Homo sapiens: one gene and its partners. Changing the gene in region 3 together with the main gene of any one other region gives a genetic interaction. Each region holds a gene or a part of one and is shown on either strand. Other genes may lie near its edges.

Region 1 (3,631 bases), on a different chromosome or scaffold from region 3:
GGGGCGGTCCAATCCCCCACCCGCTGTCCCCCTATGGGGGCAGAAAAGCAATAATGTCCAGGGGCAGGCAGGGGCCCTTGGGAGCTGCAGGGCTGGGGGTTAGGGCTGCTCCCTGGTGAATGGAGTCAGATCCTAGGATCTGTACCATGGGGAACCAGGAGTGGCCGGGCTGGGTGCCGCCTCCTGGTCCGGCCTCCTCCCCACCAAACTGTCCTCACCCTATGGATGAGGCAGGAGGAACATTTGGGGCCAAACCTGCCTGCCTCCCAGCCCCGTGCCTTACTAGGGCTTCCTTCCAGCTGGCCTTACCTCCCGCTGGACCCTGGGCCTGGCCTGGCCCCACTGGGGGCTATGGGCTGGGCTCACCCTCTCCTCTGCGGGGGTGGAGGGCCACCAGCCTTGGCTGTTACAATCTTACACCGGACAGTATTGGGCCCCATGGACTTGGTCAGGGAGGGGTGGGGGTGGGCATCTCTGGTACCTATTGGGGTGGGGGGCCTCTGAAAAGGGAGGCTCCTAGGCCCCCCTCACCCCTCCCTCTCCCCAGGGCCCCACGTTCTGCAGCCTTAAGGTTGAACATGAGTGCACGTCCATGTCAGTGCTGTGGGACTCCTGTGCGTGCCTCGGACTGCGTGTGTCGGCGGGACGCAGGCACACGTGGGTGTGTGTGCATGTGTGTTTGTGTGAGGGCAGCGTGTCCTCCAGTGTGCATGGTGTGTGGGCTTGGGCCCCATCCCTGGCCCGAGCATTTCATCCTGTGGGGGAGGGGTGCTGACCTAGTGGGAGGAGCCCCACTGTGATCCATGAGCTGCCCTGCCCACGCCTCCCCTCCCTGTAGCAACACCTCTGGGTGTTTGGAGTTTAGCTTTTGTGGGTTTGCTCTCCCTATCCCATCTCCTGTACTACACAGTTCATGGCAGGGTGGGGAGGGGTGGGGTTGGTTCGGGTGGGTGAGGGTCTTTTTCCTCTGTGTGCGATGTTGTTATCTGACAGTTCTCCGTCCCTACTGGCCTTTCTCCTCGTCTTCATATTTGTACGGTACAAGCAATAAAGACACTCATTTCAGACCAGGGCCCAGCCTGCACTCACGCCAGCCCAACCACTCTGGGCTTTGCCTTGGTGATGGAGTCAGACCCCTGGGCCCCAGCTCCTCCTGTACTAGCCGTTCCCTTCAGCAAGGAGGGCACTGAGCTCAGGGTGAGGGCAGCTGGGGTGTGTGCAGGAGCTCAGGCTGGAGAGGGTGGGTGGAGCTGGTGCTGTGGGGCTGAGGGGTATGGGAAGGCTCCCCGCATGTGGGGGTGGGGTGGACAGAGACCACTCCAGGCCCTCAGTGCTGCTTAGGCTAAGAGAGGTGGGGTGGAGGGACAGGGCTGGAAGATCTGGGTAGCCCAGAATGAGGAGGGTGCCTGTGCTGTCACTGAATGAGAGGGAGTGGTTCATTCCACCCGGCTGCCGAGCCTCAGAGGGGGGCATTCCTATCCTGCCCCACCTCCCTGTTTATGCTGCCACCTGGAAGCCTTGAGGCCCCCAAATTCCAGTACAGACCCAGTGGTGTGTTCATGGTGGCGTGGTTGCTGTCACCTGGGAGCTCCTGAGCGTTTGGTTAGAACCCTGTTCAGCTTGGGGTCAGCCCTCCCCTAGTCACTGCCCTTTAGCCTGGATGTGTCTGGGCCCCTGCACTTCCCGTGCTTGAGTCACGTGGCTGCATGGCCGGGCGCTGGCCGGATGGAACACCTCCCCCAGCAAGGGACCAGGGACCAGAGCCCTGGCCTGCCCTGCTGAGCCCTGCTGTGCAGAGGGCCTGGCACAGATGAATTTGAGATTTTGCCGCAAGGTGTTAGCACTTCACACCCATTGAGTCTTTGAGATTTTAAGTGAATGTAAGCAGAAAAAGTCAGATCCAATTTACAGAAATCAGAGTTAGCTACAGCTAGGACTCGTTTGGTTGGGGTTTTTTAGTTTGTCTTTCTAAAGTCATGTGGACCTTAATTTAATTACAAAAGTCTACCCTGGTGGTCATAAAATAGGCAGGCCTATGAAGAAAGGCCTTTTACTCTTCCATCTCGTCCCAGCCCCGAGTTGACCCACGTTGCTGCTCCTCACACCATGGTGATGCAGGTCTCGTAGTGTGGGCACAGGCCTGGCTACCTCATCTTTTTAGTGCCTCTCTCCTCTTCCACAGGATGGGGTCCCACAGCTGCAGCAGCTGGCCCCGTAGTTGAGCATGTGTGGTTATCCTGTAGAGCTTTTCCCAAGAAGGGTGTTTGAACTTAGAGTCTTAATAAAATCTTACCAAATAAATTTTGAGTAGAATAATCGTCTTTTGCAATGTACATTTTAAAAATTTCACACATTCTTTTTTGTATATAAAGAACAGTGACTGGGCACAGTGGCTCATGCCTGTAATCCCAGCAATTTGGGAGGCCGAGGCGGGCGGGTCTCTTGAGGCCAGGGGTTCGAGACCAGCCTGGGCATCATAGGGAGACCTTCATCTCTACAAAAAATACAAAAATTAGCTGGGCATGGTGGTGCATGCCTGCAATCCCAGCTAACTTGGAAGGCTGAGGTGAGGTGGGAAGATCACTTGAGCCCAGGAGTTTGAGGCTGCAGTGAGCTATGATTGCGGCACTGCACTGCAGCCTGGGACAATGAGACTGTGTCTCTAAAAATAAAAAAAAAAAAAACATGATACATGCTATTAAAAAAGACAGCAAAGCAGGAGTATAAGAAAGGAAATTCACCCGAGGTCGCAGGGCCTTGAGTACTCATTTTGGTGCTGATTACCTCTCTGCAAATGGACACGGCATCATAAATTGGTAGTTTCCTGCTCTTTTTGTGTAATCTTTTCCAGTTAATGTGAAGCCTCTGGGGGCTGCCCTCGTGCACTGATGGTTGTGTGGAGTCGGGGGCGGCAGTGCGATTCCCTTTTAGCTGCTGCATGGGGGGAACTCAGGCTTTCCAGCTGCTTCCTGGGGTTCCATGGGGTAGACCCCTCAACCGCTTCAGCTGCCCCGTTAACAGGAATTGACTTGGTTTCGTTTGGTGCTACCAGCAGTCCTGTAATAAACTAGCTATCCATCTGTACTGTGCTGGTGCTTTTGTTTGTCTACATCCCAGGATTTTAATGTCCAGTACCTTTCCAAAAAAGTGTAGCCATTCAGATACTTTAAATTTTGAAATAATTGCAGACTTGCAGAAAACTTTCAAAAATAGTGCTGTACTAAGATTATTCCAGGCCTGGGGCAGGAAATGTACAAGATGAGCCTGGGGCATCTTGCAGTGCCTGAAAGCACGCACTGATATGCTTAAGTCACAGGGACACAGGAGCCAACAGAAAGCTTCCAGTGGCCAAAGCTGAAAAGAATTTGAACAACAAAATAAATAGCATAATATTGGGTTTTCACCTAAAATGTGAAATAAGTCTATTGCTAAGTGGCAAAATGGGGAGAATATGCAAATCTACACAAAATCATAAGTAATTTCTGTAGACAGCCTTCAAGGAGGGCTATGGAACCCCCACTTCTTAGGCGTGGGCTGCAGTGACTCCTCCAAAGAGTGCAGTGTGGAGAGGGGGAAAAGTAACTTTTCAGTGAAGGTCCCTGGCAAACACTACATCATCCAGCCAATCGAG
Region 2 (3,602 bases), on a different chromosome or scaffold from region 3:
TGTATTCATTATCAAATAAAGTCATGTGTCACTTGACAACAGGATTCATTCTGAGAAATGTGTCATTAGGCAACTGCTTCATTGTGCAAACATCACAGAGTATACTTACACACACCTAGATGGTATGGCAATAGCTCCATTATAATCTTTTTTTTTTTTTTGAGACGGACGTCTCGCTCTGGTGTCCCAGCTAGAATACAGTGGTGCGATTTCAGCTCACTGCAACCTCCACCTCCTGGATTCAAGCGATTCTCCTGCCTCAGCCTCCCACGTAGCTGGGATTACAGGCTCATGCCACCACGCCCGGCTAATTTTTTGTATTTTTTAGTCGAGACAGGGTTTCACCATGTTAGCCAGGATGGTCTTGATCTCCTGACCCCATGATTCACCCGGCTCGGCCTCCCCAAGTGCTGGGATTATAGGCATGAGCCACTGTGACCAGCCCCTCTTATGTTTTACCTAACTGGATTCTTGCGACAACTATGTCGGAGACAGCACCACCCTGGCTTTGATCCAACAATCCCACTTCTGGTAACCGCTCCTGCCTCTAGACTTGCACATGTGTGAAAGGAAGAATTTACAAAGCTATTCGCAGCATTGTTTTTAATAGCAGAAGACTGAAAATACCTTCAGATGTCCATCAAAAAAGGACTGGATGAATAAATTACAGGGCATCATCAAATGGAAAACCATGCAGCAGTGAAAAAGTCTGGGATGATCTATAAGATACATTGGTAAGCAGAAAGGAAAAGGCAAGGCACAGAAGAACAGGGCTTATAGCATGCTAACTTTTTCAGTCAAAAAGGAAAGCAAAGCAAAAACTAAAATCAATATTTGTTATTAGCTTCTTTTGTAATAACAAATACATTTTGAAGCAGGTAAAAGAAACTAAAAATTTAATTACTTGTGAGGGAGCGGTGGGACTACGCAGATAGTGGGTAGGGCCGGGAGCAAGACTTTTCATAGTACCTTTTTATGTATTTTATTTTGATTCATATGAATGTACTATCTTTTAAAAAAATAAAAATATTTCCAAGTTGTAATTCCCAATCACCATAGTAATTTGCAGCACTGGAAATGTTTTTAAAATGAAAGGGCTACAGCTGATAGTGTGTTACCCAGCTGAACTTGAAGACTCCTCTTTGGAAGATACACGCCCATGAACAAACTCCCAAGTGACTTGTTCACAAGTATTCAGAACAGTGCTTATGTTAAGAAAAAACTGCAAATGATGAAAATGTTCAACAGGTACACAGGTGTGCAAGGGTTTGCCTATTCAGATGGATCACATTAGATTATATGGCTATTACACCTCAACTACTTCAACATACAGCAATCCCTATGTGAAAACACTGTGATATGTACGCAGATAAGCAATGTTCAGACGAGAATCCAGAAGGATACGGACAATTTGATATTTGCAAAGTTCTAATTGAATAAAACTGCTTGAGAATTTCCTTTTTTTAATTACAAATTTGAGGAGTGAAATGATCTAGTTGAGAAAGAAGCAAAAATATATATTTTTTAAAATGCCAAAATATGAACTGAATATGAGAGCTACATAAAAGCCTATTCAATGAGAGGCAAGCAGCATTCAAGAACATTAGGCCAAAGGCCTGGGTGTGAATGTGGGGAATGTTTGTCAAGGGCGAGGCCAAATAGACAGAGGAGGGAGGAGAAACCCAAAGGGACTCTAGTGCCGTGATCTGAGCAACCTCCAAAAACATATCCCAGGAAATGTAACTGGATGAGACCAGGAGACAAAAATGGGTGGAAAATAAATAAGCTGTGGACAACAGCAGCTCTTTCAACCCAAACGTTAGCAACCCTCATATATACTCCAGTGTCAAAACATACCTTATGTCTTTAAAAAGGTACAAAAGGGATGAAAAGCAGATCTGTGCTTCATCTCACTGAGCAGTTTTTCCAAAGCATCCCTCCCTGGAGAAATGTGAAGTCAGTTTCCACTCTTCTCCCACCTCCACCTCCTAGGGGTGTGCTGACCACAACCATCCCCAACACTCACTCCTAGCTCAGCCAGTTGGCCACTCCAACTTTCCCAATGGTGTGAACACCCAGACTGAACTTGAGGTGCTTTCCTTCCCTCATTAGACACACCTTTACAGAGTGCCTATTCAGTGCCAGGTACTGCATGCAGGATACTCTGCCAAAGATGAAACTGGGTGTCTGCAGAGAGAAGCAAGCAGAGGCCCAAATCAGTGCCATGGAAAGGCTCAGGTACTGGAAGTTCCTCTGCAGGCTCAGGTGACAAGGAGGCTGATGGCAGGGGGACTGCATGAATTCAGGTATCAGACACAGCTCTCCAGAGCCCCAACAAGTTGGGACAGTGACTGTCGGCCCAGTCACATCAAGGCACGTTGTCATGGAATTCAGAACATAAAGACAGGATCCCAAAAGCTTCCAGAGAAGAAAACAGGTCACACAAAGGATCAAGAATGGAAATGGCATCAGATTTCTCTACTAGAAGCAAGAAGATAATCAGACAATGCCTTCAAAATTCTGACATAAAACTCTGTCCAACCTAAAATTCTAAACTCAGCCAAACTACCAAAGTGGAATGAGGTTGGTAGAAAGATGTTTTTAGACAGGCAAGGCCTCGAAGAGTTACCTAAATGTACTCTTTCTCAGGAAGCCACTGGAGGATGTGCTCCACTAAAATAAGTGAGTAAAAATCAAGAACTGGGAAAGAAGAGCTTCAACATTGCCCCCAAGGGTGATGGTTAGGGGTTGTCCCAAGATAAGTGAAGGGAGAGCAGACCTAAACCATAGCCATCAGATGGGACAGGAAAGAAAGGAACTGACCACCACATTGCAAGTTTCTGTCACAAGATTTAGGGCAAATTAGTTACAGGAACATAGAAACTAAGCATGTGGGCCGGGCGCGGTGGCTCACGTCTGTAATCCCAGCACTTTGGGAGACCGAGTCGGGTGGATCACAAGGACAGGAGTTCAAGACCAGCCTGGCCAAGATGGTGAAACCCCGTCTCTACTAAAAATACAAAAAATTAGCTGGGTGTGGAGGTGGGTGCCTATAATCCCAGCTACTTGGGAGGCTGAGGCAGAGAACTGCCTGAACCCAGGAGGCAGAGGCTGCAGTGAGCTGAGACCGCGCCACTGCACTTCAGCCTGGGCGACAGAGTGAGACTCCGTCTCAAAAAAAAAAAAAAAAAAAAAGAAACTAAGCATGTGAATAAATGGGACTATTTATTATAAGCTCTTGGAAAACATAAACAACAAAAAATGTAGAAGATCTACCCAAGAGAAATGAACATATATGTCCACACAGCAACTTGTACACAAGTTTGTAGCAGCTTCATTCATAATGTAGCCAGAGTGGAAACGGCCCAAATGTCCACCAACTGAAGAGTAGATAAAACAGAATGCGGTGTGTCCATGCAATGGAACACTACACTGCAACATGATGAACCTAAGCAATATTATGCTACCTGTCTGATTCCATTTATGAGTTGTCCAGAACAGGCAAACTCATCAAGACAGAAAGTAGATCAGCTCATTGAAAAAATTATTCTACTTTCTCCAAAGAGAACTACTTGCTTCCACCTGCCCATCTCCCACTCACC
Region 3 (3,602 bases):
TCTCTTGAGCTGAAGCTGCCCAGTCAGATAGGCATTTATAGCCCCCACTTAAAGGCCACAGAACTTAATTCCTGTCAGGTTGTTGAAATTTAGCCCTAAGGGAGCTACAAGTCATTTCCCTGGTCATCTCAGGTATTCAGTAGGTCTGCTTGGCCACAGAACGCAGACAGCAGAAATGGAACCATAGCTTGATCTCGTGCCAAGGGCAGGGCTGAAGAGGCCCTGGAGGGTGGCACTGAGTCAGTGACAGCCCAGCACTGGGGAAGCCTGTGTCTCATCCCACTTGTGGTGCCTGAAGAATTTCAGCCTGACAGGTGTAAATGGACACCTCAGTGACCTTAGCAGTCACTTATGTGGTACATTAGCACCTTGTCAGAATCCCTTTGGGGAGGATGCGGCTCCCCACGGGAAACAGCCTGCACAGCCCAACTCTCCTTGATGGGAAGCTATTTGGTACAGAAATACAGACCCAGTAAAACTTCTCCATCTTGTAAGAGCCTTTCAGGCATCGAGGTTTCAATAAATTGCTTTCCCTCCAAGCCCCACAGGAAGAAACTACCTGGAACATGATTCATACAGTTCGGGGGAAGAGGGTTGCGATCTAAAGTGTTCCCCTTCTTGGAGGCGGGGGCTTAACAATTCCTGGACTCTGAGGGAGGCAGTGGAAAGATGCCCTGGCAGAATATCTGGCGCCCTAAGAAAACAGATTCCGTTCGTTGACAGGAGAGTTCTTCATCATTGTCTAGTTAGGCCTGGAAGTTCTGCCACCAGGATTTCTTGTTACCAGTTCAGAAATCACAGTGGTAAAATGATCACAATGGGCTCACTGTGGTTGACAGTTTGTTGAGCAGGACTTGGAAATCCGAAATCTGTGCTTTTATCTGGGTAATTAGTCTTTTAGAGATATCATCTAGTTTTTTTGCAGATAGTTGAGAATCAGGGAATGGAGGAAGTGTGCCCAAATATCCTCCAAAATATATAACTTACTGATACATGTAATTTTAAGCCACTTACAAGCTTTTTAGTCAAATTTCCACCTAGGGAAAGGAAACGGACCCCTCACTGATACGAAGCTAATTCCACGTTCTCTACAGACTTCTGTTTCGACACTTACTTCCTCAAAATGTTATTTACTCCTTATGGCTCAGTTTTCTGCACTTCATGCTTTTCTCAGTTTCTTGCTGTGATATGGTTGGGTCACATAAACGGGGCTTGTCCCCTGAAAAATGACATTGAGGGAATTGGCAGAGCTGGGGCATAGCAGATTTTCCCTGGACCAGTCCCAGGATCTGGCGACCAGAACCATCCCACGCGTTCTTTGGATGATGGCTTGGTACCTTCTGGCTGGCCAAACGTCACTATCCAGTGTTCTAGCATTATGAAATCCTGCTCTTGTAGCAGCTTCTCAGTGTATCTGAATAATCCAGATACTCAAGCAAGAGTTTGGAAGGAACTTGAGTGTAATGGAGTTAAAGAGCCTTTAGATATTGGGCTTTCAATTTTCCCCCCCATTTTGAAATGTGCCTCGTTTAGCCTGTTTTCTCCACGGCCTCTGTGTAAACAGACTGCCTCATCTTCTGTTGCATTGCGGCCGGGGGTGCCCATAACTTGGACTTAGCTACTCAATCCTCACTTAGCCTCCAGCTTCTTTGTGGTTTTGCCAGCCCAGCCTGAAGGGAGAAGGAAGTCTTATTCTGCCGTGCGTGTGGGATTAAGTTATCGAGAATAGCCTCCTTGTGATCTGACGCAGACTCACTGGCTGGGCCGTGTCTTCCACCAGGGCATCTGAGTTGACTACTGAGTTGTATGCTAGTCACCCAGATTCCAAAAGGGTTTTCTCCTCTCCTCTATTCTGCACTCTTGGAACCAGTGCATCCTTCAAGAGAATGTAAATCTGCATTGAGGGAACAAGAGACAAGGAAAATGAGATGATGACAACATAAGTAAGGCTGCTCCTAGAATGCCTGATTTTCAAAGTAAAGTCCTGTTACCATCTCCCAACAGAGCTGTCCAGTTCTCCCCCAGGACCCTACCATCAGGAGCCCTACGTCTGCAAACCCGAAGAGCGCTTTCGGGCACCCCCTATTCTCCCCCCACATCTCCTCCAGGTCATCCTGAACAAGGACACGGGGATTTCCGTAAGTATGTGGGCATCTGCCCGGACCATCCGCCGTGGGTCATGTTCAGTTGCTTTCTTTCCTGTGTCCACCTCTTGCAAAGCAGCTGGTGAGCAAGCTCAGTGTCACCCCCTAGTGTGAACTGTGCCGTTCACCTCTGCTGTGGGGATGGGCTGATAACAAGAGGTTCCCAGTGTGGACACCGCTGCCTCGTCTTGCAAAGCCTTTCTGCACTACTCTTCCTTGTCCTTCACGCCTGCCTCAGTCTAAGCCCTGTTCAATTTACATTTCATGACAAACTGTATCACCATCTCTTCTTAGTAAGCTACATGCTCTGGCCCCCACATTTTAGAATCTAGTTTTAATCATTCAATTGCTTTTAGAAATATCAGTACTCCTGGATCAAAATTTGGGATATCTAGGTAACACACATTTCTCCTCCGGGAAATTATTACATGCAGAAAAGAAGTGTGTGTCCTCCTGGATCTTGAAGAACAGCCAGTTCTGTTGTGATTCTGTTTTCTGTTCCATCTAACCTGGATTGCCTGCCCAGTCCGCCTAGCTCTGGGATGCATGGCACAGCCGTAATTCTTGGGAATCCAGGAATTCAGCTTGGTCCAAGCTACCTCTTAAGAGGCATTGTTTACGAGGTGCTTAAAGTAACCATGCTGCTACTGAACACTCCACCCTGAAGTGGAGGGCATGTGTGCTGAGACGAGGAATGCACGTGTACACATGCAGGTGTCCCTACAGTGGTCCCTGCCGGGCTGCCAGGACAGGGTCTCAGTGCTTGTTACCCTACAGGGTACCCAACAGGGCTTGCCTTTCTCAGGTCACCTCCTGTGCTGGGAGTGCCCCTGCAGCTGGGTAGCCATCCTGGTATAGGCCCAGAAGAGGCCAGTGGTAAGGACAGCACGCCTCAGCTGGCAGGGCCCACCATCTTTCCAGCACTGAGTTGGCAACAGTCTCAAATAGGTCACAGGTGAAGAGTTTCAAGGACATGTAGCTTCTGCCTTAGAAGCACTTAGTTGACACTGCTTCCCTTAGCTCTAACTTTACAAAGGTTGGTGGGTAAGATGACTTTCAGTGCCCTCCTAAGCTAGTGAGGTTTGTTTTTTTTTTTTTTTTTTTTTGAGACGGAGTCTTGCTCTGTTGCCCAGGCTGGAGTGCTGTGGTGCCATCTTGGCTCACTGCAAGCTCCGCCTCCCGAGTTCACGCCATTCTCCTGCCTCAGCCTCCCGAGTAGCTGGGACTACAGGCCCCCGCCACCACGCCCGGCAAATTTTTTGTATTTTTAGTAAAGATGGGGTTTCACCATGTTAGCCAAGATGGTCTCGATCTCCTAGCCTCGTGATCCACCCGCCTCGGCCTCCCAAAGTGCCGGGATTACAGGCGTGAACCACCGTGCCTGGCCAGGTTTTGTTTTTTCTAGAAAAGGGAGGCATCACTAGCCATCTTCTCTGATGGAGACTGCTGCTGGGAATA
Region 4 (3,581 bases), on a different chromosome or scaffold from region 3:
ATCTAACTGGTAGCTTGAAATCAGCCGTGGTGGGAGGAGGCTTGACTTATGGTTACTTGTCTAGACTTCAGATGATAAAATGCAGATTAGACTTCAGGGTGCTGTGTCTATGCTCATTACATTGTGAATAGCACAAGTTGAGGAAACGCTCTTCTAGTTTCCGAAAACCATCATCTGATTCAACAAAGTGGCTCAGATCACCGACGAAGTGGAGAAGCTTGACGTTCTCCTTGTTTCCCTTTTGTCTTACTCATTAGCTTGAAGGAAGAGGAGCCAACTGTACACTCACAGAGGGGGCCATCAACACTCACATGCACACACCGTCTCACCCCAGAGGTTCTGGACAGGCCCGAAGGCCAACCTTGCTGAAATTCACCACCCTCTTTGGGAGGTGACCTTTCACCACCTCCCACCTCCCTGACAGAGAACTGGCCAGGCCTGAAAACCTCAGGAGTGGGAGCCACGCTCCCCCTTGGATTGGAATGTGAATGTCATGGGTCTCTGCCCGCGTTCCACACCTGGCCCCAAGCCCCCAGCTACCTGCTGGCAGCCTAGGAATAGCACATAGTCTGGGCAGCAGAATCAGGTTTATTGGAGGGATTGGGGGTAGGATGAGCACGGCATGGGGCTTGAGGTGTGTGGAGGGAGCTCAGCAGGCCCAGAAGCCCCCTTCCACCGGCAAAGTGGAACCCGTGGTCATGCCACTTCGGTCACTCAGCAGAAAGAGGATGGCGTTCACCACGTGCTCTACCTCTGTGGGCAGGGCGGGGGTCAGGGGCATAGAGGAAGGAGGCTGCCGCCCATCTTTCCCTCCCACCCCTACCCAGGGCACACACAGGGACTGCTGGCACCACGCTGGCTGGGCTCCCACCTGACTCACCAGCAAACTTGCCAAGTGGGATTCGGTTCAGCATAGTCTTGGCCTTGTGGGGGTCACTCCAGGTGGCCTGGCCCATGGACGTCATCACCACTGTGGGGTTTACTGCATTCACTCGGATCTACACCGGGACAGCTGGGGTCAGCAGGGCAAGTGGGGTGTCCTAGGTTGGGGGAGGTACCCCAGCCCTGCTCACCTTGTGGGGCCCGAGCTCTAGGGCCATCACCTTGGTCAGCATGTCCAGGGCACCCTTGGTGGAGCCTACGAAGAGGAACCCAAGCTGGCTGGGGCTGGGGTCGGTGATGAGGGCGAGGCTGGGGCTGGGGTGGGGCTGAGGGCACAGCTGGGGCACTCACAGTAGACGCTATGGTTAGTTACTGCCCGCTGGGAGCACTGGCTGGAGACATTCACGATGGCCCCTGGGACTCCCCGGGCTATTAAGCCCCTGGCCACAATCTGGAATCGCAGCGAGACCGTGAGGCAGAGCTGGCATCACTCACGAGAATTCCCGTCCAGCCCACAGGGCAGCTCACCTGCGACACCTGGATGACCGCACGCAGGTTCACCTCAAAGGATCTAGAGGCCGAGGGACAGACCCTGGTCAGAGATTAGGGCTGCTGCGTCCTCCAGGACAGCCCCTCCCTGAGGTTCCTCCGCCCTCACAGGCTCACCTGTCAAAGGCCTCCTTGGTGACCTCCAGGAAGGGCTGCAGCAGGGCGACAGCGGCGTTGTTCACCAGCAGGTCCACGGGGCCCACGCTGCCCAGCGCCCGCTCGGTGGCCTCCCAGTCACCCAGGTCCACGCACACGGGTTCTATCCCCGGGCACTGTGTGTATCAGGGGGCAGTTACCAGAGGCTCTGTGCCCAGCAAGCGGCACAGCTGGGGACTGGGGCTGGTGACCTTTCAGCCGGACAAGTAAAGGAGTTAGGAGTTCCGAAGGTGTCGGGACTGTGGGGCCAGCAGCCGGGCGCTACCTCCGGCCGGTTCACTTCCTCCCTGCGCCCGAGCGACTCCTGCCCGGGGCCTGCTTCGCAGCCATTTCGGCCTCTTTCTGAGCCCGGGGGCCCCGGCGGCTCTGCCGACCACCCGGCCGCCCACGCAGGCCACCAGCCCCGAGAGAGGGTGCGCGGGCGCCCAGGCCGCGGTGAGAAGCGCAGCGCCCGCGAGGGGAGGCGGAGTCGCGCACAGAGGTACCGCCCCCGCTCGCTGCCGCCCCCTCCTGGCTCGCCGCCTCGCAGCGCTGGGACCCGGCGGGACCTACCTCGCGGACAAGGCTGTCAAGATCCGCCTGAGTCCGGCTCACAGCCACCACCCGCGCGCCCGTCGCGTGCAGCGCCTGGACCGTGCCGCGCCCTATACCTGCCGGGAGCGGGCTCAGTGAAGGCGTCCCCTGCCCGCCTCTGCCCGCCGCCGGCCTTTGCCCACCTTTCCCCGCCGCCCACCTTTGCCTGCCCCGGTGACCAGCACCCGGCGGCCCGCGAGGAACAGCTCCATGTCGGCGCAGTCTCCGCCCTCCGCACTGGGGCTGCGGAACTTGAAGCTCTGGCCACGATGGGCGGGGCGCGGCGGGGCCAATGGCAGGGCGGCCTTCAGATAGGCGGTGGGGACATTCAAATAGCTGCTCCCCGCTGCAGTGATTGGCCGAAAGGAGTGGGCGCGCCGGGGCGGGGCGGGGTCTCCGCTGCCTCAGGGACGGGTCTTTTGAAGTGCCTGGTGTGACCCATCTTCCGTGCTTGAAATCGACGTAGTGGACCCTGGCTAGCATATTTTTCCCTGCCAAGATTATTGCAAAAAGACGATGTGGTGGTTAATATCGGAAAGAATGTGTGGTTAATATCAGGAAGAACACGTGAAATGGAGAATTTCAGGGCTAACATTTCTTGTTTTGTTTCTGAAAACATCGGCATGTCCTAAAAAGTGTCGCCTGTGCCCATCATCTCTCAGGCTTGGGAGCAGGACACCGCCGGCTCACTTTAAAGCCAAGGGAAAGAATTTGGACAACCAACTACGTCTGGAGAAGACACCAATGTCAGCAGAGCTCCGCTTTCATCTGTGGGCGAAGGATTACCTAGATGCCAAGGCAAGAGACTGAAGACACAAACTGTTTCAGTATAACAAAGAAAATAGGCCGGGAGCGGTGGCTCACGCCTGTAATCCCAGCACTTTGGGAGGCCGAGGCGGGTGGATCACGAGGTCAGGAGATCGAGACCATCCTGGCTAACACGGTGAAACCCCATCTCTACTAAAAATACAAAAAATTAGCCGGGCGCGGTGGCGGGCACCTGTAGTCCCAGCTACTCAGGAGGCTGAGGCAGGAGAATGGCGCGAACCCAGGAGGCGGAGCTTGCAGTGAGCCGAGATTGCGCCACTGCACTCCAGCCTGGGCGACAGAGCAAGACTCCATCTTTAAAAAAAAAACAGTTAAAATAAAAATAGTCATAATACAAATTAGATATAAAAATGATCATGATCATGGATAATTATCAATCATTAGTATAAACATTATTAATCATTAGCTTTTAATATTACTCTTTGTTGCATTACTAATATAACCTAGGGACATTGTGAGAAGTGACCTAGAAGGCAAGAGGTGAGCCCTCTGTCACTCCCGCATAAGGGCTGCTTGAGGGCTCCTTGGTCAAGCAGTAATGCCGTTGTCTGGGAAGCCACCCGTTACTTAGAAGACTGCGAAGGGGAGTCTCC

The links. A genetic interaction does not mean that the proteins touch.
Region 1: changes in PRKAB1 (region 3) and AKT2 together harm fitness less than expected from each alone (positive genetic interaction), as found in Homo sapiens cells (one large-scale study listed by BioGRID).
Region 2: changes in PRKAB1 (region 3) and SREBF2 together harm fitness less than expected from each alone (positive genetic interaction), as found in Homo sapiens cells (one large-scale study listed by BioGRID).
Region 4: changes in PRKAB1 (region 3) and DCXR together harm fitness more than expected from each alone (negative genetic interaction), as found in Homo sapiens cells (one large-scale study listed by BioGRID).

Annotation. Positions count from the first base shown.
Region 1 is NC_000019.10:40,229,770-40,233,400, reverse strand, and holds the end of AKT2 (RAC-beta serine/threonine-protein kinase), read left to right. Parts: 3' UTR 1-3,084; downstream 3,085-3,631. UniProt on the Homo sapiens protein: Serine/threonine kinase closely related to AKT1 and AKT3. All 3 enzymes, AKT1, AKT2 and AKT3, are collectively known as AKT kinase.
Region 2 is NC_000022.11:41,839,550-41,843,151, reverse strand, and holds part of SREBF2 (sterol regulatory element-binding protein 2), read right to left. Parts: intron 1-3,602.
Region 3 is NC_000012.12:119,674,533-119,678,134, forward strand, and holds part of PRKAB1 (5'-AMP-activated protein kinase subunit beta-1), read left to right. Parts: exon of another isoform or gene 1-1,894; intron 1,895-2,004; coding exon 2,005-2,138; intron 2,139-3,602. UniProt on the Homo sapiens protein: Non-catalytic subunit of AMP-activated protein kinase (AMPK), an energy sensor protein kinase that plays a key role in regulating cellular energy metabolism.
Region 4 is NC_000017.11:82,035,311-82,038,891, forward strand, and holds DCXR (L-xylulose reductase), read right to left. Parts: upstream 2,388-3,581; 5' UTR 2,373-2,387; coding exon 2,321-2,372; intron 2,238-2,320; coding exon 2,140-2,237; intron 1,704-2,139; coding exon 1,549-1,703; intron 1,454-1,548; coding exon 1,411-1,453; intron 1,334-1,410; coding exon 1,234-1,333; intron 1,139-1,233; coding exon 1,074-1,138; intron 999-1,073; coding exon 881-998; intron 754-880; coding exon 650-753; 3' UTR 548-649; downstream 1-547. UniProt on the Homo sapiens protein: Catalyzes the NADPH-dependent reduction of several pentoses, tetroses, trioses, alpha-dicarbonyl compounds and L-xylulose. Participates in the uronate cycle of glucose metabolism.